2 separate regions of the Homo sapiens genome follow, and region 1 is linked to region 2. The links come from fine-mapping of genetic effects on gene expression. A gene starts in region 2. The other region holds a variant in brackets. All regions are shown on one strand. Distances are from middle to middle. Region 1 holds the start of PGF (placental growth factor). Region 2 holds the start of LINC01220 (long intergenic non-protein coding RNA 1220).

Region 1 (14,796 bases), 340 kb after region 2:
CAACTGGGCAATTGTGATACTGAAGGCCAGGTGCCATGATGGAGGGGAATTCAAGGTACTGTGGGAACCTGTACCAGGGATGTCTTACCCAGTGCTGGTTGCCAGGGAAGCCATGGAATCCTGCCTAGAACAAGTGCATAAAGAGAAGAAGAGCTCAGGATGGAGGCTGGGGTGGGTCCACAGGAAATCGCAGCCCAGGAGGCAGGGCAAGAAGGCAGAGGCCAACCAAGCATCTGCTTGCTAGCAGCTTTGAGTAGCTGCTGGCTATAATGCAGGTTCAGTCTATAAAGTGAAAAGGCCCTTGGCCCAGAGCTGCCCACTGTTTCCCTTTCTACCAGTCATGAAGGGGAAGATAATCCTTGGATGCTACACTTCTCAGCCACCCAAGTCCGGGACTCAGGAACAAGGTCAGAAGCAGAGGGTGTTTACCCAGGACCACTTGAGACACCTCTCCAGAGGCAGGTGCTGAATTGTCGTTAAGAGAGGACAAGTCATCACTGGGGAAAAGTTCATAGGGCCAAGACAACAAAGAGGCTAGAAAATGGGAAAATGGCTAGAAAATGGGGAAGTGAGTCAGGAAGCTGAAAGCCTACAAGCTGGGATGGGTTGGGGCAGGTGTTTCAGGCTAACACGATGACTAATAATATGGGAAACTGTGTTTGCAGGATGCCTTGGGGGCCAGGGGCTGGCCTGCAGACTGGAAGCCATGACTGCTCAGGGTCCACTGCATTGTCATGGCCCAGTGTTTCCACACCCAACCCCTCATGTTTATCTGTATCTGCCCGACTCCCCGCATAAGAGTCAGCTCCTGAAATCAGGGCTCCTTCCTTCCACACATCAACCATCCCAAGTCTGTCAAGCATCCATTCTGCTCCAGCATGGGGAAGACCCAGAAACGGCTCAAGACATCAGCCCTCACCTTCAACGTCCTTGCAGTAAGGTTGGGAGCTAGCGCTTAGGTTCACTGGAAAGACCTTTGGAGAAAGATCTCGGCTTGATCCCCATCACTGTTCCTTTTTAAGTAGCTAAACGACTATTGGAAAATTACATAAACTCCCTGGGCCTCCATCTTTCCATCTTCAAAATGGAAATAATTAAAACCTACCACTACAATGTGATCAGAATTCAATGAGTCAAGGTGGTTAGAGCACCAAGCACACTGTTTGGCATATAATAGATGTTCAATAAATATTACTTCTCTCCCTGAAACAACAGCAAGAGATTGTGGTGATAAACAGTTAAGTGTTGAGTTGTGGGCACTGACTGCCACCCCCTAAGCACCTGGGTCTACTTCAAGGGCCTCAGTGACAGTTGAGGATTGAGAGCCTGCACTGTGATGGTGAGAATTAGTGTTTGTGTGCACCTATGCAAATCGCTCCATTTTCTTTCTCCACTGCCACAGGCAGAAGCATAAGATTCTTTATTTTCTATCTCATGTCCATGCTACAGGACTCTGCTCTGTAACTGTAGTTTGTTTTTTGTTTGTTTGTTTTGGTTTGTTTTTTTGAGATGGAGTTCTACTCTGTCGTCCAGACTGGAGTGCAGTGGCACGATCTCGGCTCACTGAAACCTCTGCCTCCTGAGTTCAAGTGATTCTCCTGCCTCAGCCTCCCGAGTAGCTAGGATTACAGGTGCCTCCCACCACGCCCAGTTAATTTTTGTATTTTAAGTAGAGACGGGGTTTTACCATGTTTGCCAGGCGGGTCTCGAACTCCTAATCTCAGGTGATCTGTCCTTCTTGGCCTCCCAAAGTGTTGGGATTACAGGCGTGAGCCACTGCACCTGGTCTAACTGTAGTATTTTTATTTCTCTAATACAAGTCAAAAATTAAATTAGAAATCGTGATCAATTGCTACCATTCTTTGCACCAAAGGTGCTTTCTCAGTCCTCGCACAACCCTATGAGGTAAGTACTGTTATCATTCCCACTCCTACAGATGGAGGAAGCTGGGGCTCTGAAAGCAAAGGAAGCTGCTTGAGGCGATGTGGCTGGTCAATAGTGGGGCCAGTGTACAAAGGAGCACAGCCTGGGCAAGATGGCAAGACCCTGTCTTTACCCCCAAAAAAAAAAAGTTTTTAAATTAACTGGGCATGGTAGCACACACCTGTAGACCCAGTTATTCTGGAGGCTGAGGCGGGAGGATCCCTTGAGCCCAGGAATTGGAGGCTGCAGTGAGCTATAGCCAGTGCTACACCAGTGCACTGTAGCCTGGGAGAGAGAGCAAGACCTCGTTTCTAAAAATTAAAATTAAAATTACAAAAATTTAAAAAAAAAACAAGGGAGCAGAATTACTAGCACAGCTGCTCTGGACTGGATGTGAGCAAGAACAAACTTTGATTCAATCCATGGAAATGTTAGAGTCTCCTTGGTCTCTGCCGCTGAGCCTACCCTAGGCTAATTCATCTCACAGCCCAGGAAGCTGGGTTTAGAAGGGTATGGTCCCCAATTTAGTGATGAAGGACTGAGGTGCACTTGTGGGAACCACAGACTTCGCCCAAGGTGTTGAGTTCACTCAGGAAAGAGAACTTCGGCATCCCCAGCCATCGGTATCCCCCTACTCCATGAATGTAAACTCAGAGAGACCCTCCATATCATATCCCTAGCACCTAGAGCAGTTCCTGGAGCATAGCAGGGCTCAGGCAATACATGCCAAATGAAAAAACAAATTAATGAATACAGGCTGGGCGCGGTGGCTCACACCTGTAATCCCAGCACTTTGGGAGACTGAGGTGGGTGGATCACTTGAGACCAGGAGTTCTCGACCAGTCTGGCCAACATGACAAAAACCTGTCTCTACTAAAAATACAAAAATTAGCCAGGCATGGTGGTGTACACCTGCAATCCCAGCTACTTGGGAGGCTGAGGCACAAGAATCGCTTGAACCCATGAGGCAGATGTTGCAGTGAGCCGAGATTGCGCCACTGTCTACCAGCCTAGGCGACAGAGCAAGACTCTGTCTCAGAAAAAAAAAAAAAAAATACAAACTCATACACAATAGACACATCCCATGCATAAGTGCTAGAAACACTCAGTTATAGACAAGCATATACAATGAAGATACTTAAGCACACGCGCACACACTTGTGCACAATACACACCTGTGCCCACATACACAAATCCATACCCAAACTAAAGACACACACAAACACGTGTATGTATACAAAGATGTTATGGGCAACATATACAATACATATATGCACAAACACACACCTACTCACCCTCACACACATGCACAGTGACCCTCCACAATGATTCTGGGCCCAGGAAGCAGTTTGTCTACCCCACGAACCCCAGCTTGTTTGAAGCTCGTCAGGATGTTCCTTGCAGACCCCGCTTAGCCAGCTGGTGACTGGCCCCCGCCTCCTGAACCTCCAGGCTTAGGGCCGGCCAGGCAGGCAGGCTGCATCTCTGGCAGCCCCTCGTGGGTGGGCAGGCAGGCAGGCAGTGGACGCAGAGGTCACTGGGGTGAGAGCTGGGGCTGCCCTGGCCTCCCTGCTCTTGGCTGGAATGTGAGCTGTAGGGGCCACTTCCCAGGCCTCGCTCCTCCCCCACAGCCACCCACCAGCCCCAGGCCCAGCCAACTCGTGACTCCCAGTCCTGCCAGGTTCCTGCAGCCTGGGAGCTGGACACAGAAGGCAGTGAGAGGAGTGGTGGTAAAGAAAGATCCAGAACCAAGGGAGGGCACACACAAACGCAGAGAGAGAGGCACAGTCTTCACCCACAGAGACAGACACACACACGCAGAGACAGGCAGGCGTGCAGACTCACAGTCCCACCGAAAGATACACATTCAGACACTTCCAAACACACCCAGATACACAGCGGACACGAACAGATCACACAAGCATACAGAGATACAGAGAGACCTGACCCCCACACAGAGGCGTATTTGGAGGTACAGTAGTCACACGTACTCAGACCACACAGAGGCTCAGATGCACCGCTCATGGATATTCACAGACCCGCAAATGCCCATGCACACGCGCAGATGCACACAGACCCCCGCGCAGCGTACAGTTCCTCCTCGGCCAGGGACCAGGAGGAGATGCCTGAGTGAGACCACTCTCTACCACAGGGGGCTGCCCCGCAGGGAGGGCCTGGGAAGACTGCTTCCCAAGGAGGCAACAGGCCTGATCCTCCAGCCAGGTGCCCTGAGAGGTTTCCTGTGGGAGGCCCACTGTGTCCGTGCCTGGCTAGGAGGGTGGTAGGTCGGGTTAGAGTTCTGGAGTCACGTAGGCTTGGGTTTTGTCTCTGCCAGTTCCTCGGACACACAGATGCGCGCACACACACAACACACACACACTTTCCAAGAATGCCTATGTCCATTCGACATATGCAGGCAGGGGTGCTCTCGGAGCCTCGGTTTCTTCATCTATATAACCTGGCTAGGAATCCCTTGGCCCCCTAGGGGTGTGGGCATGGCTGCCTTCCCAGGCATCCCGGACGGCCCTTCCTGCAGAGGCGGTTAGATCATGAGCCTTGACGGCTGACGCTGGACTCCTGGATGCCCCCATCCCAGGTGACCGCCCTGAGAGCCGAAGCAGGGCTGTGGGCCCTGTGGGCGGGCGCGGCGCGGCCCGGGGAGCTGCGGGCTGGGCTCGGCGAGGCGTCTGGACCTGCCGAGAGCCCCTCGCACGCACTGCGGGCTCCGGCGCTGCGGGCTGGCCGGGCGCTGCGGGCTGACCGGGCGCTCCGGGAACTCGGCTCGGGAACCTCGTCTGCGGTGGGCGGGGCCGGCCCGGAGCCCCGCCCCGGCTCAGTCCCTGAAACCCAGGCGCGGACCGGCTGCAGTCTCAGAAGGGAGCTGCTGTCTGCGGAGGAAACTGCATCGACGGACGGCCGCCCAGCTACGGGAGGACCTGGAGTGGCACTGGGCGCCCGACGGACCATCCCCGGGACCCGCCTGCCCCTCGGCGCCCCGCCCCGCCGGGCCGCTCCCCGTCGGGTTCCCCAGCCACAGCCTTACCTACGGGCTCCTGACTCCGCAAGGCTTCCAGAAGATGCTCGAACCACCGGCCGGGGCCTCGGGGCAGCAGTGAGGGAGGCGTCCAGCCCCCCACTCAGCTCTTCTCCTCCTGTGCCAGGGGCTCCCCGGGGGATGAGCATGGTGGTTTTCCCTCGGAGCCCCCTGGCTCGGGACGTCTGAGAAGATGCCGGTCATGAGGCTGTTCCCTTGCTTCCTGCAGCTCCTGGCCGGGCTGGCGCTGCCTGCTGTGCCCCCCCAGGTAAGAGCTACCCCCACCTAGCCTGGCTCCCCAGACCTCCCCATCCCAGCACTGGAAGCATGGGACTCTGAAATCACAGACCCACTCCAGGGAGCAGCAACTCCAAGGATGTCCACACACTTCCTAAAGGCCAGGCTGGACTTCTTTCGTTTGGGAAGAGACCTCAGGCTGGCTGTCCCCCAGGTCCTGGGGGCTGTCTTGGTGGGGGCAGGGAAGCCACAGGGAGGGAGGGAGGGAGGGAGGTTTCCTGTCTGGCCCCTGGAGCCCTGGTGGCTTTGCTAAAAGCATCTGTCCACTAATCCCAGGCGGGTCCCTGGCCTTGTGGTCAGGGTCGAGGCCCCATGGCCAACCAGGCGTCCCCAGGACCTCTGACCTGGCCTGGTGGGGGTGGCGGAGGAGCCAGCTGAAGAAGCTGTTGGTGGGGAGGCTGGCCCTGCCCCCACCAGGGCTCAGGACTGAGCCGTGGGCTCCTGGGTGGGCTGGGGACGAGACAAGGGGTCTCGCTGTGCCTTTTCTCCTGGGTGGGTGGCCGGAGGTCCTGAGTGCAGGGCCTGGGGAAGTGAGCAGGGCCCTTTTCCCAGGAGCCGGGTGAGTCTGGCTGGGAGCCAGCTTGGGCAGTGAAATCCTGACAAAGCCAATGAACTGCCTTCCCACTGCGTTGTCCCACTGCCCTGGGAGTCCCCAGCCCCAGCCCAAGAGTAGGAGTGGGCTGGGCAGTCCCTGAGGAGTCCGAGCAGCCCAGCCACCCGCCTGCCTGCTGCAGGGCTGGCCAGAGGTGTAACGTTACCGGCTGCACCAGCTCATGGCGCCACCCGCTCCAGCCCCTCAGCTCCCACCAGCTGATCACCTCCCCCTGGGCTCTGGCACCCAGCCAAGGCGGGCTGTGCAGGGCCCAGCAGGGTTGGCCTGGGGGCTGGGTAGAAGGCAGACCCGCAGGATTGGAAGATCTTTGGGATGCAGCAGGCCAAGGGTCTCCAAAAGCTTCTAGCCTCCCATCCTTTTCCAAATGAGGAAAACTGAGGCCAGAGAGGGGTGGGACCTAACCTACCCAGGGTCCAGTGAGTTTTTAGTGGTACTCAGGCTGCTCTGAGACAGGGCAGAGCATGTGCAGCAAGTGGGAAGGAACCCAGAGGGGCCCCTACCTTCTTGCCATCACACTTGGCCCAAGAGTGCAGAGCTCCAAGGTACCCCCAGCTCACCTCTGCACTTTTCTGTCCATAGCAGTGGGCCTTGTCTGCTGGGAACGGCTCGTCAGAGGTGGAAGGTAAGCTGGCCAGGCTGGGGGTACGCATGCTCCCCAAGCCCCTCTCTTCCTTTCTCCCAAGCCCAGGTGTGGCATGAAGCGTGGGTGCAGGTTGATAAAAGCTGGGGAGAGCCTACAAGCTAGACATGCTGGGTGATGACTTTGGCAGGGCCTAAGAGATCCCCTCATGGTGACCCAGAGACTAGAGAGGTGTGGGCTGGAGTCACCAGCACACGGAGAGTGGGGCTGGGGCCAGTATAGCCAGGGTTCATCCAGCTGGCTCAGAGCCCTTCCCCAGCATGATTTAAGGGTATGGATGGGGTCTTGGAGGACAGGGTGGGGAGTGAGTGCCAGGGGCCAGAATGGGGGTCTGGGAGCTGAATGCAGTGGGCAGTCAAGAGGATCAGGAATGGGTGAGGGGCCCTCCCCAGCAGCCCAGCCCTGGTGGAACTGCCGGGATCTGACCATGCGTTTCCATTGATTATAAACAGACAGAACATAGTCGCGCCCTCCCTGGCCCCTCCACTCCCCGCCCTGGTTGCATCAAGAGGGAGTCTTCAAAGGGCAACGAGACGTTTGCCAAAGAGACATATGTACAGAAGGCAGGAGGCCCATGCCAGGCCCCCTACCTCGCTCCTCCCTCCCTGCCTCTCCAAGACGTGCAAAGTGGCCACACACCACCGCTGAGGTTTCCCCTGCGCCATGGGAGAGTGGGCATGTAGGGACATGCACACGCACACGCGTGATAGCCATCTGCGTGCTGGGAACACCCTCTGCTGGGCTGCCTGCCTGGCAGCCCGCCTCTCCCGGGCCTGGCCATACTCTGACACCTAAGGCTTAGGCCCCTAGACCCCTGAGCAGGTAGAGGAGGTAGCTGCCCTTGACCTCATGGATGCCTCCCTTGCTGTGCCTCTGGAACCAGCACAACATTATGCTCCTTGGGATTTGGGGAAGGACCCATCCCCTACCTCCACACTATGCCCTTTTTGGTGCTTTTAGTGTAGGTCAGGCCACAGCTACCAAAGATGCCTTAGCCTCAGTTTTCTCATCTGTAAAATGGGAGCCTTGGCTACATGATGTCTATGGTTTCTTCTTTTTCCGAGATTGAAAAAGGGACTTGTCCTCTGACTCCAGGGAGGAGAAATGGGTGTACATATCACCCAGGATTTGAGGTGGGGAGGCCTGGAAGTGTAGATTCATTAGGTCAGCTCTCCTGTCACACTTATCAATCAGGGAGTCTGCAATCTGACCGGGAGAAGTACAACGAGCTTTGCACCCCAGCTCTCAAAATCTGAAAATGGCATCCCCACCTGTTAACACCACAGCCAGAGACAGCATGGCCAGCCATGGGCATTGATTTTTACTATTACTATTCACGGTAACAATGTTAGGCATTTTCTGTCATTCTGTTTTGACCACAGGCTGTGAAGTAGGAAGGGGTTGTACTCCATTTTTACAGATGCAGGCAGGCCCTGAGGCTCAGAGAGGCCCTGGGGGTCGCCCCAAGCCTCAGACACTCCTCATGGATCTGGCAGAACCAAGTGCTCCCAATAGCTCCGTGGCTGAGCGGGCATGAGCAGGGTGTCCCTTGTGGCAGGCTGTCTGTGTGCCCTGCCAGTGACCATGGAGAGGACACTTGTGGGCTTGGGCTGGTGGCCAGTGGCTCTGCCCAGCCCTGTGGCCCGTCTCCAGTGCCCTCCACAGAAACTTGCTCTCAGGATTAAGCATTTCTCTCCTGGGGTCTCCCCCATCCCAGGTGGTAGGTAGGCAGGTGGGAGGCTCACTCACAGGGCTGGCGAGAGAGCTGAGGGCACACTTGCAGCCTCAGGAGCAGCCCTGGGGACCACCCAGCCCTGGCAGTGCCTGAGGGGGCCCTGAGGGGGCCACAGCTTCCCGTTGCTCTCACCTCCACCCCCTCCCGGAGCAGGTCTGGGGCCAGC[G/A]GAAGTGCTCTCGGGGACAGCTGAGCAGAGCTCTTTCCTGAGGGACACAGCCCACATCTGGGAGCGGTCACTGTACTCCCTCAGCCCGGCCCCTCACCCAGCCCCTTTTGTTTCTCCCACACACCCATAGCGGGGCCTTCAGGGATGAATTGCCCTTTCCTGGTGGCTGCCAGGTAAACCAGGCTCCAGCCCACCTCCTTCTCAGCCCTCCCCCAACACAGTTCGGCCACAGGGCTGGGAAAGTGGCAGATTCCAGGGTTTCAGGGACCCGGAACCTGCATGGTGGGATGTGGGGTGAGGAAAGGAAATCCCTTCTTCTGCTGCCGAGGCCCAGCCAGTTCTGCCAAAGGTGGCCATGGCCCCGCAGCCCAGCTGGGTGGGTGTCTGTTTGCAGGATGGAGGGGGCTGGGGTGCCCCTTCTCTGCTGCTGTCCCCTCGCTGACGGCTGGTCCCAGGGCAGGAACCTGAGTCTTCTGTGGTGCTTTGGCAGCTCATTATTCCTCTGCTGTTATTTATGTTTTCCAAGGTGGAGATTAAACGTTCAGAGTCACGTAGTGCTCATGAAGATTTTAAACTAAACACACAGCTCAAGGAGCTGGTGATAGGGAGGTGCTCTCTGACCCAGGATTGCAAAGGCAGGCTTCCCTGCACTTTGGGCGCCTTTGGGGAGAGAGGCCTTGTTTCCCACTGGGTTCCGGGGCAGTATCCAGTGGCGCGGAGTGGTAGAGTCAGAGGAGGCCTATGGATTCCCCCCACCACCAGCCCCTAGGCCCTAGTGCCCTCTAAGCAGAGCACGGCAGAATGGAGCAGAATGGAGCAGCAAACAAGCAGATAACACTGTTTATTGCCTCTATGACTGCCTAGCCAGCTCCACATGGACACACCGCCTCTGGGTATTTTCCACCAGTTTGCAGCCTTTCCCGAGGGCCTCTGCTAGGACTGAAGTTTATTTTTCTTCCGAGATTACCAGGAGGCTCATGTCCTCATAGGCTCAGTGGAATGGACTTTGGCCCCTTCTGCCTCCTAGGCAGAGGCATGGAAGAAATGAGGGGTTGCTGGGAGAGGCCATTGTTCCATGGCAGAGGCTGCAGGACCCCCAGCTCCCCATTCTTCCCCACTAGCTGAGGATGACCATCAGATGCAGAGCAGGATGACCCAGGCCTGGGGGTGTTTCTCTGTCCATGGTCTCTGGGCTGGGCTGGGTTGCAGGCACTGATTCACAGGCGGTTGGTCAGAGAGGGAAAGACCTTAGCAACCATTTATTCCCAACCTTCTTTTTTCCCACCTGAGGAAACTGATCTATCCAGAAAGGTTAAGTGATCTCCCCAAGGTCACATAGCCAGTGTAGGGCCAGGACTGGAAGCCAGGTGTCTGACTCTGGCCACTCTCCCTGTGAGCCTCTATTTGGGGCCTGGTCCTAGGCCTTCCCCCGAAAGAGCAGCATCTTTTGAGGGATTCCAGATCAGCCCCCAAAAGATCCCATTCACGATCGCCAGGACATCGTGAGGTCAGGGATGACCCGGATGATCCTCAGTGAAATGTCATCTAATCAACCAGGAGTGACTTAGCCTGTGTTTACGGGTACGTCCATCTCTGCCCTCATGGAGCCTCGAGTTGGTTGTAAAGGAGATAAGAGCAAGCAGTGCCGGAGATAAGGCAACCCCTTGAGGCCAGAGGCCAAGCAGTGCTCAAGGGAGGCTCATCTGTGTGCACTGGAATTGCTGGGGAAGTCTTCAAAGAGGAGGTGGGGAGGCAGGTCGTGGAAAATGGCGGGTGGACTTTATTTGGATAGAAATGAGAGGAGGGGGAAGAAGAGCAGCTGTACGGGCTGCAGAGTGCACAAGCCAGAGCTGGGAGTGAATGTGGTGCTGCCGTGGCTCAGTGTGAGCGCTGGTTGGACTCAGTGGAGAGGAGGGTCGGGCCACATTGCTGGATGTGGTCTTGGTTGCCAGGCAGAGGAGCTGGCACAGAGTGGGGCAGGAAATGAGGGAGCCGTGGAAGGTGTTTGAGCAGAGGAATAAGGGAAGGCCAACCCTCCCTGCATGACTCCAGGAATGACTGTTTTCTGCAAGTTCTCCAAGTTGGAGGAAGCACCGGGTCAGGCTTGAGAAAGATCCAGAGGGCCTGGGTAGCTGCCGGGGCTACAATCCTCAAAGCTCCAGGGAGCCAAGGCAGACGTGGGTGCCTGAGTTGAGGACAGAGCAAAGCTTGGGACCCTGAGAGATTCTGTTCCATGGGGATTTCCATCCAGCAGATGAGCTAAGGGGCCCGCAGGCATTTCGGAGGGATCACATTAGGAGTTCAGAGTTGAGGGAGCTCGGATGGGGCTGGGGGCTGAACCTGGAAGGCCAGCAGGGCCTTGGGAGCCAGGTTTAGGGCTTCAAGGGGCAGGTCTCTGCTGGCCTGACCCAGCCCCCTTGCTTCCTCGCAGTGGTACCCTTCCAGGAAGTGTGGGGCCGCAGCTACTGCCGGGCGCTGGAGAGGCTGGTGGACGTCGTGTCCGAGTACCCCAGCGAGGTGGAGCACATGTTCAGCCCATCCTGTGTCTCCCTGCTGCGCTGCACCGGCTGCTGCGGCGATGAGAATCTGCACTGTGTGCCGGTGGAGACGGCCAATGTCACCATGCAGGTAGGTCCATACCCTGCCCAGGGGGCCACCGAATCTGCCCACTAGAAGGTACCTGGAGAGGGAAGAAGATAGGCCCAGGTCCCAGGGCTGGAGCCTGACTCCCAGGCCAGTGCTCCTACCACCCCAGCCCAGGGCCTCTTCTTCCTAAGCCCTCCGATGGCTCTGAGCCCACTCATCTCCACCCCCACCAGCATTCTCAGCCTCACGCTGAGTCCTATCCCAAGACTCAGGGTGTCTAGTTAAAGCTGGAAAGAAATCTGCTTGTATAAAGTCCCTGTTGACACCAGGAGCATTTGGTCCCTTTTCAAGCAAGTGCAGCTTACATGTCACACACGCAGTGGTTTACTGAGCACTTACTGAGTAATGCCAAGCACTGTCCTAGGCGTGCCACAAGTGGTGTGTCATTCAATCCTTCAAGGCTGGTGTCATTCCCATTTCACGGATGGGGAACTCAAGGTTCAGAGATGTTATTTCACTTGTTCAGCAGGTAAAAGAGTCAAGATCTGAACACGGGTCTCTCTGACTCCAGAACATGAGCCCCCTTCCTGTGCTATTGCTGTGCTAGTGCTCCCGGGCAGGGAGGGACAGGGGCCTCCCTCAGATCCCCATGCAGCTGAGAGAGCTGTTTGCCCCACGTTCAGAGTGGAGTGAGGGCCTGTAGTCCACAGGCTAGCAGGAAACAGAGTCGGGTTCTCCTTACAAGGAGAGAGAGAAGAGTGCCGGAAACTCGTGGGCCACTCCCCAATCCAGGCATCAACTCTTTCTTCCTTCAGCTCCTAAAGATCCGTTCTGGGGACCGGCCCTCCTACGTGGAGCTGACGTTCTCTCAGCACGTTCGCTGCGAATGCCGGTAGGTCTCCGGGGTCGGGTGGGTAGCAAGGAAAGGCCCCCGTCCTCTTGGCAGCCTCAGCAAAGATGGGTCCCAGGGCAGAGGCAAAGGCTGCCCATCCCCGCTGCGGGCTGAACTTTTTTCCAGACTGAGGGAGACCAAGAGGGCAGGACCAGGGGTGGCTACCATTCATTTTGTCCCCCCACCAGCCAGTTTTGCCAAGGGAGCTGGTCCCAGCAGCTGGGGTACAGCTGTTGAGATACTGCAAGGGAAGAGAGAGGGTGGGTCCCTCCCAGCCTCGCAGGGGTTCGGTGCGTGTCGTTCCCCTTCTCTGGGATGGGAGGCAGCTGCCACGGGCCTCTGAAAGAGGTGCCTGGAGGCAAAGACATTGCAAGTCTGAACTTCGTTCTGGGGCAAGCTGTGTGCCCACAGGAGCGGGCAAACGGGGCTGAGAAGCAGCAAGAAGGACAAGCTCGGGTAGGAGAAAAGGGGCAGAAGAAGAGTGACACTGTGGCTTCCTTGATGTTGCAGCACCCCTCTACGGCCCCTCCCAATCCACAGAGCCTCTGACCAGCACCAGTCTTGCTGCCTGTGCTGGGGGCACTTGGAACATTGGTTAGCAGGAGCAACAGGCCTGGCACTGCCAGCTAGGTTCAGGGAAGAGAGAAATGGGCTGAGCTGCTGCTCCTGGTACTACTGGGCCATGGATGAAGGCACCAGACTAGAAGTCCAGAGCCCTAGCCAGGGGCGGCAGGAGGGAAGACTACCACTTATTGTGTACCTATTCTGTGCCTAGCCCCGCAGGAGGCACTTGAATGTTTCTCATTTAGTCACATACATTTATTGAGCACCTACCACATGCCAGGCATTGTCCTGATGGGATGCAGTGGTGAGCAAGGTTCCTGCTCTCATAACAACCCTGGGAGGTAGGCCCTATTGTCATCCCCATTTTACAGATGAGAAAATCAAGGCTCAATACAGTTTCATGATTTATCACAGCTAGTGAGTGTGGGAGGAGGGATTCTGGGCCCTGACCTAACTCGTAAGCCTTCGTTTTTCAGGCTACCTTTCATGGCCATGACCACTTTTCTAATAGCCCCCAGGCTTAGCCTTGCCTCCTGGGCAGGGCTATGGCTGCCCCTTTTGTTGGAGTGTTGGAGACCCTGCCTCAACTTGTTTCCACCCATCCCTCCAAGCCAGAGCTTAGCCATATAACAAGAGCTCGGTAATGAACCCTCCTGGGTGCAATGCTGGGTGGTGACCCAGAGTCACCTTCTCCATCCCCTTTGCCCTGACAGCCACTCTTTTGGGGCAGGCAGATGAAGAGACTGAGGTTCCAAGAGTGTCTGTCACTTGCCCAATATGGAGAGGTACAACCAGACAGTCCCAAGAGGCCCTGGTACCTTGCCCTGGCTCCCAAGGGAGGAACCAGCTGAGGGTAGCATGTCCTGGCCCCAAAGCTGACTGCTACCATGCTGTCCCATGTCTCTACCCACTGTTCCCAGTGAAGACTGAGGCCCTATCCCCTGCCAGGGGCCAGGCAACAGGGACACCTTTCTTCTTGCTTCTGGGCCAACAGCCACAGCCCTGGGAGGCAGAGCCCAGACATGCCTGGTGACTTCAGGGCTGATGCTCCCTCCTTCCTCCCACCCCGTCGCTCACTCCCCATGTTGTTCCGGATGGAGTGGGGCTGTGCCCTGACAGGCAGCCAGTCCGCTGTCTGGCCATCATCTCCTGTCCCTGAGGAAATTCCCAGAATGCACCCTGGAAGGAACGGAAAAAAGCAGCAAAGAAAGTGAGAAAGAAAAAGCAACAGAGAACAGACAGAAACAACCAAATTTGATGCCAAGAGGCTGAGAAGTGCAGAAGCGGGTGGCAGGGGTCCCCAGGAGGTTGATTTGTCCCTCTCGTGGTGGGGTCACCAGAGCCTGGAGTGGGAGTGAAGCCTTGAGGCTCTGGCCACCTCTCCCTTGCCAACTCCATGCTACCCCCTAGTGGCCTCAGTGTCAGCTGCAGGACCAGGACTGGGGATGTCGGAGGGGACCTGTCCGGGCGGCAGGGAGCCCCACTTATTGCTTTCCTAACGTTCCTCTGCCCCTCTCTCTGTCTGTTTCCCTAGGCCTCTGCGGGAGAAGATGAAGCCGGAAAGGTAAGTGGTTTGGCTGGGGCTCGGGGCTATTCTCGGGCCTGCCAGCCTCTGTCCTAGCATGGGGTTCCCCAGCCACCTTGTCCTGACGCTTGGCTTATTGCAGGAGGAGACCCAAGGGCAGGGGGAAGAGGAGGAGAGAGAAGCAGAGACCCACAGACTGCCACCTGTGAGTGTGCGGGGTCCCAGGGATGGCGAGGAGGCTGGGCCCGAGGGGAGCCCCGCCTTGCCGCCAGGGTTAGGTTGGGGAGGGGGAGAGGCAGGACTGAGGCCAGTCTTGGGGGCAGAACAGGGAGCTGCACCTCCTCAAGACTCTAGGGCCCAGGAAGCATCAGTGGACCTTGGTTTTTGTCCCGGCTTAGCCCTAGGTTTCCATTGACCTTCAACAAATCATTTCACCTTTGTCAGCCTAGCTTTTCTCTGTGTAGAATGAGGGGCAGGAGGTCCAGCAAACATTCAGTCACTCTACAAACATTTACTGAGCACTTACTGTGTGTCAGGTACATCTGTGAGCAAACAAACAGGATTCCTGCACATTAGTGTTTACCTTTTAGTGATTAAAAGTCTGTCATCAGCTGAGACGTTATCTGGGGCCACTTCCTAGTAGCCCCGGGGAACATGTGCCCCTCGCCACTGTCTCCCAGGAGTATTTTTGCCTGTGGGTCCCCTTGCTGCTTCTAACCCACTTCGTACCTTGTGGGCAGCAGAATGGAGCCCCAGGCCTGAGTGTGGCTGGGAGAGAAGGATGAGAGGAGGGAAAACCCAAATCTGTGAGAGTAAATAGA
Region 2 (14,796 bases):
AATATTCTGTCCAAAAAATAAATAAAAAATGAAACTAGTGTGTGTATTGGAAAGGTAGAATTAAAAATGTTGACAGTGGTTATTCCTGTGATGGGATTACAGTCAATTTTTATTTTCTTTATTTTTTGATGATCTGAATTTTCAAAGGTTTCTACCAGGAGCATGTATTTCTTTTGGGAAAAGTTTTTTTTAAAAAGTGAGGAGGTGTTGGAAACTTCCCATTTATTATGTTGTCATCTATTTTAAAAACAAACATACTACTTTGCTGAGAACGTTTTGAAAATATTTTTTTCCTATTACAAAAGCAATATGTGCTTGCCAAAAAAGGCAATCAGAAAGTACAGACAAGCAAAAAGAAGAAAATAAAAACACATTCCCTCCTACCCAGGAACAGCCAATATTAGCACCTTCATGACTCTTCATAAGCTATGTTGTTTTTTTTTTTTCAAGAGATGGTGTCTCACTATGTTGACCAGGTTGGTCTTGAATTCCTGGCCTCAAGTGATCCTCCCACCTCAGCCTCCCACAGTGCTGGGATGAGCCACCACGCCTGCCATGTTTTTTTTAAAGATAGCTCAACCTTCAATTTCTGCTCCAGGAGCTATTAAGGGCCCACCCTGTTGCCATTACTGGAAATATGAGTTTAGAAGGAGGTTTGCAGAGTCCTCTGTGATCCCCAGTTCCTAAGATGGTTTTGCCAGGTCTCAGGCTGTGTTTGAGGCCCCCAAATCACAGCTAGTGGTAAGCGTGGTAGACACCCTGGCCCTGGCCTGTTTCGGAGCACAAAACTCCTCATGTGTCATGGGGGCCCGGAGCTGTCAAGTACGAGGACCTTAAGAGTAATTCCTCACACGTTTAGGATTGCGACACCCTATCATTGTTTGATGTTGCAACCCTCCTTCCCCTTTACTGAAGGAATACATGCAGCATTTGCATATTTCGTTGGGTACTTTTCCACACGAGTTGAAGGGAATTAAGATTAATTTGGCTGCAAGACTACCAAAACCCTCCTTCCCCCACTCCTCGGATAATTGCAGGCAATCAGTCAGGGGTGTCTTCAGTTGGAGTGAAGGATGGCAGCTTTGAGGAGCCGTGAAGGCAGGTTCTGCCATGAGGAAGGCCACCCCAGGCCTGGGAGTACACCTACCAAGGCCAGATATCCCTGGGCCATTCTGACACTCCCCCGCACCCCACGCACACACAACAAGAGGTTTCCAAGGCCCACCCACACCCTCTCTACTAAAATCTCCCCTCCTGGGAAGGAGAGCCGGAGAGGCCTCCAGCTCCTGGCATCCAGCCCCAGTGGGTCCACGCCCTCAGCACAGCCCTGGAGCAGAAAATGTTCTTAGAGCTGATGTGCAAGTCACACCGTTTCTGCTTCCTCAAATGGGGTGATATTTACTCCTGGCGCAGACCCAGGCCCACCCTCCCACCAAGCTCCACAAGTTGAGCTGGTCTCATTGCTATCTGATATGTTCAGTCTTTCTGGAAACTTCAATGACCTTGGAAACTCTATTTTCCTTTACATGTGGCTGCTCTTGTCCACAATAATAACTATAGCTTCTGTTTATTACACTCCTTCTGTGCCAGGCACATTACAAACATGCAATACCCACAACAGTCTTTTGAAGTAGACACAATTATTCCCATTTCACAGATAAGAACACTGAGGTTCCGAGAAGTTATCTGTGCAAAGTCACACAACTACCGACAAAGATAGGAGTCAACCCAGACCTGCCTGACCCCAAAGCTTATGCACTGCCCTGAAAGGTCACTGCTCGAGGGAACCAAGAGAACATATAATCAATCCCCATTCCAATGACAAGACAGCTAAGCTGGAAAATTCATTTACAAACAGTTACATGGTACTTACGAGGTGCAAGGTGTTGCTTTAGCACTTTACAAATACCAGCTAATTCACCCTCATTGTATCACTATGAGATAGGTACTTTTTTTTTTTTTTTTTTTTTTGGAGACGGAGTCTTGCTCAGTCACCCAGGCTGGACTGCAGTGGTGCGATCTTGGCTCACTGCAACCTCTGCCTCCTGAGTTCAAGCGATTTTTCCTGCCTCAGTCTCCAGAGTAGCTGGGACTACAGGCGCGTGCCACCACACCTTGCTAATTTTTGTATTTATAGTAGAGATGGGTTTTCACCATGTTGTCCAGGCTCGTCTCAAGCTCCTGACCGCTGGTGATCCGCCCACCTTGGCCCCCCAAAGTGCTGGGATTACAGGCAGGAGCCACCATGCCCGGCCTTTTTTTACAGAGGAGAAAACTGAGGCACAGAGAGAAGAGTAAACTTGCCCAGGGACATACAGCAAGTGGTAGAGTCTGGATATGAAGCTAACTCTAGGGCCCGTGCTGCGTCTTCTATCCCAGAAGCAGAGACCCACCTCTCCTAAGTCATTGTCCTTTGACCTGTCTACAGCACCGCCACCTTCCTCATCTTTCTGAGAGTCCACTTCAAATTTCAGACTTCCTCATCCCACTCTGGGTGATGTTAGTGTTCTCTTGTGAAATTGCTTTGTGAAATGACTTACTGTGCAAGGCCATATTTGATTAGATCACTATCCAGAGTCCCTAAAGAACTAAGAGTTCTGCAAGGTTTATTGAAGCAAAACCTCAGTTGTTTCTGTGGAAGCTAATCAATTAATTAATAAACAGGGGCTTATTGAGAGCAGTTTGTGTCCCCAGCCCTGTGCTGGGCACCCTGGGGTCTGTGAACACAAAAGATGCACAGACTTGGACCCCAATAAAGAAATACAGTATATAAGTGCACACTGTGTGCTGAGCCTGTGTACAGCCATATTTCAAAAGACATATAGGATGGCTGGGCGCGGTGGCTCATGCCTGTAATCCCAGCACTTTGGGAGGCCAAGGCGGGTGGATCACTTGAGGTTAGGAGTTCGAGACCAGCCTGACAAACATGATGAAACCCCGTCTCTACTAAAAATACAAAAAATCAGCCAGGCATGGTGGCGGGTGGCTGTAATCCCAGCTACTCGGGAGGCTGAGGCAGAACTGCTTGAACCCCAGAGGCGGAGGTTGCAGTGAGCGGAGATTGCGACACTGCACTCCAGCCTGGGTGACACAGTGAGACTCCAGCTCAAAAATAAAAAATAAAAAAGACGCATAGGAGAGGAAAGTCAGAAGTCAGGAAAAGTTTTTAGGCAAGGGGTGGAATTTGAAATAGGCTTTTTTTTTTTTTTTTTTGAGATGGAGTCTCACTCTGTCACCCAGGCTGGAGTGCAGTGGCCTGATATCAGCTCACTGTAACCTCCGTCTCTCGGGTTCAAGTGATTCTCCTGCCTCAGCCTCCCGAGTAGCTGGGATTACAGGCGTGTGCTACCATGTCCAGCTAATTTTTGTATTTTTAGTAGAGACAGGGTTTCACCATTTTGGCCAGGCTGGTCTCAAACTCTTGACCTCAAGTGATCCGTCTGTCTCGGCCTCCCAAAGTGCTGGGATTACAGGCGTGAGCCACCGCGCCTGGCCTGAATTAGGCTTTGAAAGAAGGGACAGGGTTCCGATAGCAGGAAGAGAAAGAGCAGATTTCGCAGCAGAAGCAACAGGCATGTTTTCTGCATCCAAATCGGCCAGATCCTCAGAAAGAAACGAAAGAGAGAAAAGGCTAGAATGGTTCGTGTGTTTTGGTTTGGCTTGGGTTTTTTTTCTGTCAAGTTTTGCTATTTCCACCAAAGTGAATACAGAAAAACTCCCTTGCTGGCAGCACCGCGACGAGGCTTCTGGATTGGAGAAGGGCGCGCTGCCTCACATGTGCACTAGGGGGCAGAGCTGCCGCGGGGCTGCTGTAACTCCAAGAACAACCAGAGGGCAAGGGGAAGGATCCCAGCCCCTTCCTCAAATCAGGCGGCTGCAGGACGGGAGGGCAGTTGGAAAGCAGTCGTCTTCTTAGTCCGAGTTGCCTTCATATTCAGCCTAGAAGTTAGGGAAGAAACAGCGTGTAAGAGGAAGTTGGGTGAGACTGAAAGGGGAAAGAGAAAGAGAGAAGCATTGAAGAGGCACTCTTCCCCACCCCCAGCAAGGAACCCTCCATGTGCCATGAAAAGACTTCCAAACAGCAGAAAAGGGTTAGGGCTACTCCTGCCTCCTGCTGTAATCTTGGCTGAGAAAAGTTTAATGCAAGGCTTGGGTAACTATGAAAAGTGACCAACTGCTAGACTAAGACTGGTTTCAGAACAGCCGACTCCTGTTCCCTGGACAGGGGTGACCATTCCAGCTGCTCTAAGGAGGAATGCTTGAGGCTTTAGGAAGTACACAATTCTTGGCCATCCCCCCCAGGCCCTGGTGTCATGGTGTGGGCTGCGTGTGGCAGCAGACGTGACAATGGCGTTCTTTAAGAGCCCTGAAGTCAATATTTAGCCTAAATGTACAACCCACCAGCTGAGCCAGGCAACAGGGTTCTGAAGCACAGGAAATTAGAAGCACCTAGGCGATGTGGAACACTATTTGAAGCTAGATATCCTGACTTTTATCAGTTTCTAACTAGCTGTGCAAGTTTGGATGGTCGAACCAACTTCTCTGAGCTTTAATTTCCCTGTTGGCGAAATAGGTTAAATTAGATTAAAAGTCTCCGATGTGACTTCCAGCTCTGAAACTCTGGAAAACACACACTCCTTCAGCCAGAGGAACTGGGGAATCTAGGGGGCAGGGATGGGGGTGGGAGGATGGTGACAGGCGTCTTGAAGGATTAACCCCACGCTTCTCCTCGCAATTGCAATCGGCTCCCCAGCAGCGGCCACTGCGGCACTGCCTGCCCCACCCCCGCCCTCTGGGCCCGGCGGTACACACCCACGGCTCCCTCAGAGACTTCTGGAATCTCGCTGGATTTCTCCCAGGAATGCTTATTGCCCTTTAGATCTGCAAATCGCTTTACATCAGCAACCCTGCCGCGCGATTATTAATCATCTCAATATTCTCCCCCATCCCCTACCCTCCCCCTCGCCCGGCCTGGAAGAGGAATTGCAGGGGTCCGGATTTATGAAGGTGATTCGTATTATTCATTCAATAATCAGTTAACTAAAGTTCATTAAGCGCCTAATAGGAGCAAGGTGCAGAGACACACAAATCCAATCACCACAGGGGGCAGAACTGTAGGGGGTCGATGCTCAAAGAACTTCACTGATATTCCAGTTATGTCCTGGGGAGGGGGTGGTTAGAGGGTGATGGAAAAGCTCCCCTCACAAGCCTGATGACAGTGCTGCAACCATTATGGACCACCCCCACGGTTCGTTTTATCATGCCAGGAAAAGGAAAATGGCCTTCCCAAGGTCACTTATCCCCCGAGGGGCAACACTGACCCCAGAACCGCCGTCTTCAAAGCTTTCCACTGTGCCATGAAGGAAAATTTTGAGTTGAAGCCTATAAAATACAGCGTTGGGCGAGAGATGGCATGATTTCCGGGCACAGAGTGAGAAAATCGTGATCCCAGATCACCCACCCACAACAAACGAGACCGCCCCAAATCTTGACTGCAGCTACAACCAGCAGACGCACAGGAATGCTGGAAACAGCTCATTCATCCATCGCGGCGCCCTCTCTCTGGGCCCCCAGCGCCCCTGCCCTTGCCTCCGCCTGGGTGGGTCCCGGGACAGGAGGCGGGGGTCTCGTGGCTCGGAGCCTTCGCCCAGCATTCCAGGGGCGGGGCAGGGACCGGGGGCGGGGCGCGGCGGGAGTCCCGCCCACAGCCTACCCCGGGCCGGCGGCGCAGTGGCTGAGCCAAATATGGGCAGAGCGGAAGCGGCGGGCCGGCGTCACGGCGCCGGGTGGGGGCCGCGCTGCGGGGCGGTGACGGGAGTCGCTGACGGCGCCTACGTGTCACCGTGGAAACCAAACAGTAAACAGAGGACTCGCGAGCTCCTGGCACCGTCTGGCCCTGCGACCTGCCCTGGAGCAAAGGGCCGGAAGCTGGGAAGGGCCAGGAGAAACCTTGGCCTGGCCGACGAGGACAGGGGCGCGGCAAGGGTGTAGAGAGGGCGGTGGAGGGGACGCTGAGAGAGCACTCCCAAACGTCCCTCCCTGAGGTCCCTGGAAGCCGGCTCTCCCTCTGCCCACGGGCCAGCAGGGGCTGGTCAGGAGCGGAAGGAGGCCCTCCTGTCCCTTCTTTTTCTTTTCCTTTGTTTTTTTTTTTTTTTTTTTTTTTTTTTTTGAGATGGAGTCACGCTCTATCGCCCAGGCTGGAGTGCACTGGCGCGATCTCTGCTCACTGCAACCTCTGCCTCCCGGTTCAAGCGATTCTCCCGCCCCAGGCTCCCAAGTAGCTGGAACTACAGGCGCGCGCCACCGTACCCGGCTAATTTTTTACATTTTTAGTAGAGACAGGATTTCACCACGTTGGCCAGGTTGGTCTCCAACTCCTGACCTCAGGTGATCCGCCCGCCTCGGCCTCCCAAAGTGCTGGGATTACCGCGCCCGGCCTCTCCTGTCCCTTCTGAGGGCCTCCGTGCCTGCAAGGTTGTTGCGGATACTGATTTTGCTTTGTTTTTCCTTTCTAATGGCTAAGAGTTCAGGCATTGAAGCCACACTGCCTGGACTCTAATTCCAGCGCTGCCACTCCAGTTGGATGATCTTGAGCAGACCTCTGCGCCCCAGACTATATTATTATCTACAAAAATAAGGATAATAGCAGGACCTACCTTTAAGAGTAGATGAGGACTTTTAAAATGAGTGTGTGTGTGTGTGTGTGTGTGTGTGTGTGTGTGTGTGTTTGGAACAGTGTCAAGCATGTTGTGAGCCCCAAGTTAGTGTTAAGTGTTTATTTTTATTCCCAGGCAGCACAAGAGAAACTTACGTAGTATTAGTAGTGCATCTCCTAAATCTACTACTGACGTAATGTTTTTTTTCTCGAGTCTTCTTTAGATTTAAAATAAAAGGGGGCCGGGCGCTGTGGCCCACGCCTGTAATCCCAGCACTTTGGGAGGCCAAGGCAGGAGGATCACTTGAACCTAGGAGTTCTAGACCAGCCTGGGCAACATAAGGAGACCCCGACTCTACAAAAATAAAAAAAAATAGCTGGGCATGGTGGTGCACACCTGTGATCCCAGCTACTTGGGAGGCTGAGGTGGGAAGATCTTGGGCCAGGGCAGTCAAGGCTGCAGTGAGCCTTGATTGCAGTCACTGCACTCCAGCCTGAGTGACAGGGAGACCCTCTCTCAAAAATAAATAAGCAAAAGGAATTATCTATTTTAAAGATAATATTCAAATCTAGTAAAAATATTTAGTTATTAACTAAAATGTGCATTTGTCAAATAAAAACATGGCAAAACACTGTATCACACTGCTTCGCAATTTTAAATTTTAAACACGAAAACTCCAAATGGTTACATGGAACAGAAGCAACTCAAATTCAGTCTTCACAGTCATTGTGTTATCTCTGTTTTTTAAGTAATTTTTTAAAATGAAGCGTACATATTACATTATTCAAACTCAATAGTAATCCCAGCAACTGTTTAGGACTTAAAACAACCAAAGATTTTTTCAGGAAGAAGTACTTTGTCACTGACAACATTAGAATTGCCAGCTCATAGTGTTTATTTAAAAGGCAGACTGCCCAAAGACCTGAAAGGCCCAGAGGTGTTCTAGGTCCCGACGCGGCTGCTGGAAGCCACCTTTGGTGAGTGTGCCCAGTGCTGGCCTGGGTGCCCTACCTGGGAGCTCTCATCCCCTTCCCCCAGCAGGCCCGTATGGATAATCCCTTACATCGAGCAGATGAGCAAGGCCATGCTCCAGCTGAAGGCTCTGGAGTCTTCAGACCTCACCGAGGTCGTGGTTTACAGCTCCTATTGGTACAAGCTCCAAACCAAGTGGATGCTCCAGTCCATGGCTGAGTGGCACTGCCAGCACCAGGAGCAAGGGATGCTCAAACTTGCAGAAGCCATGAATGCCCTCAAACTAGACCCTTGGATGAAGCGAACCAGCTTCCGGCCAATGTGATGGAGGCCAGGATGTAGAGATTAGGTTGTGGCCAGAGCCGGAGTGGTTCCAGCTTGGTTTAAACTCTGCTCCAGCCTGATGAATTAAGGAAAAACCATCTCTTTGGGGATCTCTGCCCTTGCTCTGAGTCCTGTTGTGAATATCTTTTTTGAAGGTTGCCAATTAAAGAAGAAAGTTTTGGGGTTTTCTCATTTTTCTTTATTAAGAATAAAGTTTTAAATAAGGGAAAATTTTTAAAAGGCAGACCAACTTTTTTTGGTTTTATTATTCGTTTGAAATTCTAAGCAGATAATGTGATCCCTTGTGGATAACAAATCCTAGAGTGACCCACAGTGATTCCTGCTTCCTGATGTCCATGCCTTTGTGTAATTCCCTCCATCTGAGTGCAGGTGGAACCTGAGACTTGCCTCTTAGCAATAGAAAATGCAAAGGTGATGGGATGTCACTCCCGTAATTTTATGTCTGTGTATGGCCCCATCTTGCTGGCATGCACTGGAGAGGTTCTTGTCGCAGGCTTGATGAAGTGAGCAGCTGTGTTGAAGAAGTTTACAAGGCAGCCTCTAGAACCGAAGGGTAGCCTCAGCCAACAGCCAGCAAAATGCCAGAGTTCTTAGTTATACAGCCACAAGGAAATACAGTCTGTGAACAACCTGAGTGAGCTTGGAGGTGGACTCTTCCCCACTCAAACATCCAGCTGAAAACACAGCTCAGCTGACACCTTGATTGCAGCCTCGCGAGACCTTGAACACAACACTGTTCTGTTCAGAAGATGGATGGAGTTTGCTAGATAAGCAACTGGCTATACCTGGACTCCTGATGTTCAGAAACTGTGAGATAATAAATGTGTGTTGCTTTAAGCTGCTAAGTTTGTGGTAAATTGTTATACAGAAATAGAACCAAATACATTCTCATTGCCTATCCCTAGAACAGACTGCTCCCACCTCCCCATGCTTGGTACACTTCTGTGGCTCTGTACACACTGCTCAGGCCTCCCATCTTAAAAAGGTTCCGTGAGAGGATTACAAGGAGTGTCAACTGCAGAGCATGCCCCAGTGTTGCTACTAGAACATCAAGCATCTAAGAATGATGTGGTGCGGGCACTTTAGGGCATTTTCGTAGCAGTCTCCTGATGTCATCAGAGTTTTGAAGATGGAAAGGGAGCTTAGAGATTTTTGAATCCCACCCCTAATCTGGCATAGGAAATAGTCTCAGAGGGGTTGAAATCTCACCCCAGGTCACATAAGCACATCTTTAAGAGCAGATGTTCACATTCTAGCAATGCAGTTAAGCACTTTGGGTTTTAGAGTCACAAAGAGCTGGATTCAAATCTTAGATCTGCTACTTACCAGTTGTGTGACCTTGGTCAGCTTATTTAACCTTTCCTAAATTGTTTTCCTTATCTGTAAAATGACACTAATCATATCTGCCTCATAGGATTGTTGTGAGGACTAAATGAGAGCATTTATTAAACAAAATAATTATTGTATGCCCATTACGTGCCAGTTGCTAGAGGTACAATGATTAGCAAACCAAAGTCATTGATTTAGCATGGCCTATAAAGTGCATAGCACAACCTGGCACAGAGCAAGCACATGTGAAATACTGGGCATTATCAATATTTTCTCTTAAGGCTCCAGGTTCTATCCCAACCATTTGCCTCCAGACAAGCTCTATAAACTCATATCATAGAACCTCTGCTGTGGTTCCAACTGCCCACATCTCCCCATAGATACTCCCCAGGCATTGCAAACTCAACATGTCCAACATAGAATTTACCTTTTTAACCCCCAAACCTGTTCCTCTTCCTATAGTCACAAAGCCATTGGTGGAAACACAAGCCTCCCGTGTTTCAAGCCTGGTAAACCTGACGGTGAGCTTGGGTTCCTCCCTCTCCCTCACCTCCACCACCTACTCAATCACCAGGTCCTGACCCCCTAATTACCTCTTGTTCCCTCTCCATTCCCACCACCACTGCCTTGGTTCAGCCTACACATAACTGAGCTAAGTAAGCACCAGGCTTTTCATGATCTGGTCACAGTGATCTCTTCTTGGCTGATCTTCAGCCCCATCTATTTGATGATGCAATATTGATATAAGTGAAATTAAATGCACTTGCGTGATGTTCTGTAATTTACATCTCCTCCTCATCATCTCCCCCTCACTGCCCCCTCACACACTTTGTAGTTGAGCAAAACCAAATTCAGTGTTTTATGAGTCTGTGCCCTTGCAGTGCTAATCCTCAGCCCAGAAGCTCTCTACCCTGCCACTTGCTCATCTAGCAAGCTCCATACACCTTCGAAGCCTAGCTGAAAGGTCACCTTCCTCAGAGACTCCCCCAGAGAGAGTTTGTCACTACCTCTTCCATGTAACTCCTGAACCTGGTGTTAATTTCCATTGTTACAGTGTATTATAAGGTTTGTGTTTACCTGTCTTTCTCCCTTACTTGAGCTCTTTGAGGACAGGATTGTCTCTTCCTCACACTGAATTCAATACCTGATACATAGCAGACACCCAGAAACTTTTTATTAAATGAAATGAAGCCCATACATGTTCCCCTGACCCCCATCTCCCTAAACTATAAAGATAATAAAAGCAGCTAACATTTCTTCTTTTTTTTATTTTTTTTTTTCTGAGATGGAGTTTCGCTCTTGTTGCCCAGGCTGGAGTGCAATGGCGCCATCTCAGCTCACTGCAACCTCTGCCTCCCAGGCGCAAGCAACTCTCCTGCCTCAGCCTCCCAAGTAGCTGGGATTACAGGTCCCACCACCACGCCCAGCTAATTTTTGTATTTTTAGTAGAGATGGAGTTTCAACATGTTGGCCAGGCCGGTCTTGAACTCCTGACCTCAGGTGATCCACCCACCTCGGCGTCCCAAAGTGCTGGGATTACCGGCGTGAGCCACTGTGCCCAGCCAAAAACAACTAACCCTTCTATCATACTTCTGTGTGCCCAGATGCTGTGATATTCAGTCTATACATACCAACTTATTTAATGTCCACAACAACCCCAAGAAGTGGATACAATTATTATCCCCATCTTACAGGAGGGAAAACTAAGGAGCAGAGAGGTTAAATAACTTACCCAAAGTCTAGGAGTGAGGATTCAGGGCTAAGTCTATGCTTTGGACCACTCTGCTAAATTGGATCCAATTCTTGCCTGGGTGCGGTGGCTCACGCCTGTAATCCCAGCACTTTGGGAGCCCAAGGCAGACGGATCATTTGAGGTCAGGAGTTCGAGACCAGCCTGGGAAACATGGTGAAACCCCATCTCTACTAAAATTACAAAAAGTCACCAGGCATGGTGGCATGCGCCTGTAATACCAGCTACTCAGGAGGCTGAGGCAGGAGAACCGCTTGAATCCAGGAGGCAGAGGTTGCAATGAGCCGAGATTGTGCCACTGCACTCCAGCCTGGATGACAGAATGAGATACTGTCTCAATACATAAATACATACATACATACATACATTGGATCCAATTCCCCAAATTTAGATCAATATATTATATTGTTTTGATAAATTTAGCTGTGATGATAGTCACATCACTGACAAAAAGCCTAAAAACAAATCATTGCTTCCATAGATTTGACCAAAAATTGTTCCCCAAAGTAAGCATGGCGGCAACTGGAGACTGGGTCACTTACATTTAGCACGAAGGTATTTCGTTTTGCTCAGTCTAGACCCTTTAATAGGGGCCCCTTTGTATGGGTCTGCTTCTAACATAACCAACAATTAAACCCGTGCGGGTTCCCAGCCCTCCCAGTCACCTGACTGTACCAAACCCAATCACCTTGAGCTGAAAGGGAAAAGGGCTTATTAAGAAGAGCTGGCTGGGCTCGGTGGCTCATGCCTGTAATCCCAGCACTTTGGGAGGCTGAGACCGGCGGATCACCTGAGGTCAGCAGTTGGAGACCAACCTGGGCAACATGGTGAAACCCCATCTCTACAACAATACAAAAATTAGCCAGGCATGATAGCAGTTGCCTGGAATCCCAGCTACTCTGGTGGCTGAGACGGGAGTGAGGCAGGACAATCGCTTGAACTCAGGAGGCAGAGGTTGCAGTGAGCCAGCCTGGGTGACAGAGTGAGACTCCGTCTCAGAAAAAAAAAAATGGAGAGCTGATGGCCATAAGGCCAGGCAGGCTCCAGAGCCCTTACTGCTCTGTGTCCTCTTAAGCAACTGAAGAATGCTTGGGCAAAGGAAAGGCAACTTAGTTTAGTCCAAAAATAGATGTGTGGAACCACGAAAATAAATTGTGTTGCAACGGAACTGGTTTACGTTTCTGTTGCTTTCTCCCGCATGCAAAGGAAATGGAAATCTATCCAACCATCCCCCTTCAGAGACTTTGCACTGATTCCTCAGGATTCAATGTACCCTATTTCTACCTGCTTCTCCTCAGGTCTGGGCATATTCTTGGCAAATGATAATTATGATGATGATGTTGATGTGATAATAATGATAGTAGCTAACCCTTATTCTTCTATTTTAATGCAGACTAAATTATAGGTTTTACCATTTAGCACACTGATTGCTAGGAACCATTGAACTCAAATGGGATTTTTGTGATAGTCTGAAAGTTTTATAGCAGTAAGAGTGAAAAACATAATTTTGTTTGTTTCTTTGAAAATGATTATATCTAAATTTATATATGCATTCATTCTGCATTTAATAGCGAAACAATTTCTCAACCTATAATTAGCCTAGAAGTGTCACTGACCTACAGCTTACTTGTATTTTTTGTACCCCTTAAAATTCTTTCCCAAGCTAGCTAGCTCCTCATCTTAATATTGTAGAATCCTCGAAGGCAATTTTTTTAAACAAATGGGCATACTCTTCTACCCTGAAAAAAATCTGTGAAGTATATAGTTTATCTTCACTTTAAGTTCTAGCTATGTCCCTGTCAATATTTTTGTAATTTTCATCTGCATTCATTCACTCATTCATCTTCTTTATTCAACATGCACTTGAGGGCCTAATAGACACTAGAGATACAAATGTGATCAAGACAGAAAAGGTTCCCGCTCACATGGAACTTACAGTTCAGGGATAAGAGACAGACAATTTTCTTTTTTTTTTGAGACAGGGTCTTGCTCTGTCACCCAGGTTAGAGTGCATTGGCACGATCTTGGCTCACTGCAACCTACACCTCCTGGGTTCAAGCGATTCTCCTGCCTAAGCCTCCTGAGTAGCTGGGATTACAGGTGCACACCACCCACCCCCAGCTAATTTTTGCATTTTTAGTAGAGACAGGGTTTTGCCATGTTGGCCAGGCTGGTCTCGAACTCTTGACCTCAGGTAATCCGCCCACCTAGGTCTCCCAAAGTGCTGGGATTACAGGCGTGAGCTACTGCACCCGATGAGACAGACAATTTTTTAAAAGGAAAATAACACATAAATTAGATATTGCAAGTAGGGATACAGGCTGTGAAAAAACAAAGCAGGATAACTAAATAGAGAGTCCTAGGGAGCAAGTATGTCCCGAAGTCACCCTAGATAGAATGACCAGGGAAAGCCCCTTGGAGGACATGTCCTTTGAGCAGAGTCCCAAATGACAGGATGCCGCCAGCCTGGGGCAAGAGGCCCCGGCAGAGGGACTGCAAGTGCAGAGGCCCTGCTGCAGGAGTACGTGTTCTATGTGCCAGGAGTGGAAGGAAGGCTCGTGAGCAGAGTGCCTGTAGGGAAGAAGGAAAAGAGATAGAGTGGGAGAGGAATTAAAAGTCAACTTTTTTTTTTTTTTTTGGTGGAGGGGTGGTGTTTAGGAGTAGAGGTTTAATAAGCAAAAGAAAGAGAAAGGAGAATAACTCTCTCTTCAGTAGAGAGACAGGGGACCCTGAGTGAGACTTCCTAAAAGTCAACTCTTTAATATTAATAGGAAAACAGCACAATTTAAAGCATTCTGCTATTCAGCATTCAAGTGAGGCTCATATCTCTTTTTTTTTTTTTTTTTTTTTTTTTGAGGAGTTTGGTTACTCTGTTTGGAATGAGTCTCATACACCATTTAGAGATCAATTTTGTTTTAGCTTTTTTTCAACTGTAAAAACATTGAAACTTTAGACGATTACCTCAAGATAATCAACTGAGAACTTTTACTGTGCCTCAATTTTTTTTTGTCCGTTAATTAAAGATAGCATAATTGATTTACTTTCATTCACACATGGGAATTGCTGTTGATACAAAATTACTGTTATTAGAACAAATTGTTAAATCCTACCCTTTAATTTTGATAATTACACAAGATGCAGTGATGTGCAAAGATGATGCAGAATCTACAATCCACTATTCTACAGAGATAAATATTTTTCCTCTTCCCTCTTCCCATTGAAAATTAATTTGGAGCCAGAAGCCCAATGGCAGCTTTGAAGTTGAATTGGCAGAGGTCATCCAGGAAGACAGTGAAGGAATTCCAGGAGGCAAGGATGGGAATGGGGTATATTTTTGCAGCCAGACATAAAAGATGTAAAATTCCCATTGCTTAATATACTAACAGGGACCAGGAGAGGAGAAGTTAAAGAATATGTGTGGAATATATTTCTGTGTATGGAAATAGCACAGAATTTATTCATCCACTGGGCAAAATATTAATTAACCTTGTACCATGTGCCAGGCACTGAGCCAGTTCTGGGGATCCTGGTGAGCTAAACTGGACATAATCCCCATGAGGAAATGACTTCTGCCTCTATCCCCTTCAATTATATGTATATGTCTTTAGCAATGTTGAATAGTGGTGCCCTCTGGTAGTTGTTTTCTTTTTTGTTTGTTTTTTGTTTTTTTGAGACAGAGTTTCACGCTTGTCACCCAGGCTGGAGTGCAATGGCATGATCTCAGCTCACTGCAAGCTCCGCCTC

What was found.
Region 1: its variant is fine-mapped to the expression of LINC01220 in whole blood (INTERVAL, PIP above 0.99).

The regions. Positions count from the first base shown.
Region 1 is chr14:74,945,597-74,960,392 of GRCh38, reverse strand. It overlaps PGF (placental growth factor), which reads left to right and starts at 4,796. Exons shown (of 7, transcript NM_002632.6): 1 at 4,796-5,225; 2 at 6,447-6,489; 3 at 10,840-11,036; 4 at 11,810-11,886; 5 at 13,985-14,014; 6 at 14,118-14,180. The coding sequence starts at 5,151. It overlaps LOC107984690 (a long non-coding RNA gene), which reads right to left. Exons shown (of 3, transcript XR_001750826.3): 2 at 11,394-14,796; 3 at 10,166-11,088. RefSeq lists silencers at 4,650-4,749, 4,930-4,999, 13,885-13,934. The variant G/A (reference allele first, on the strand shown) is at 8,409.
Region 2 is chr14:75,285,263-75,300,058 of GRCh38, reverse strand. It overlaps LINC01220 (long intergenic non-protein coding RNA 1220), which reads right to left and starts at 5,655. Exons shown (of 3, transcript NR_038421.1): 1 at 5,518-5,655; 2 at 5,322-5,382; 3 at 3,649-3,939. It also overlaps the pseudogene DPPA5P4. RefSeq lists silencers at 5,418-5,877, 10,730-10,914 and an enhancer at 5,948-6,087.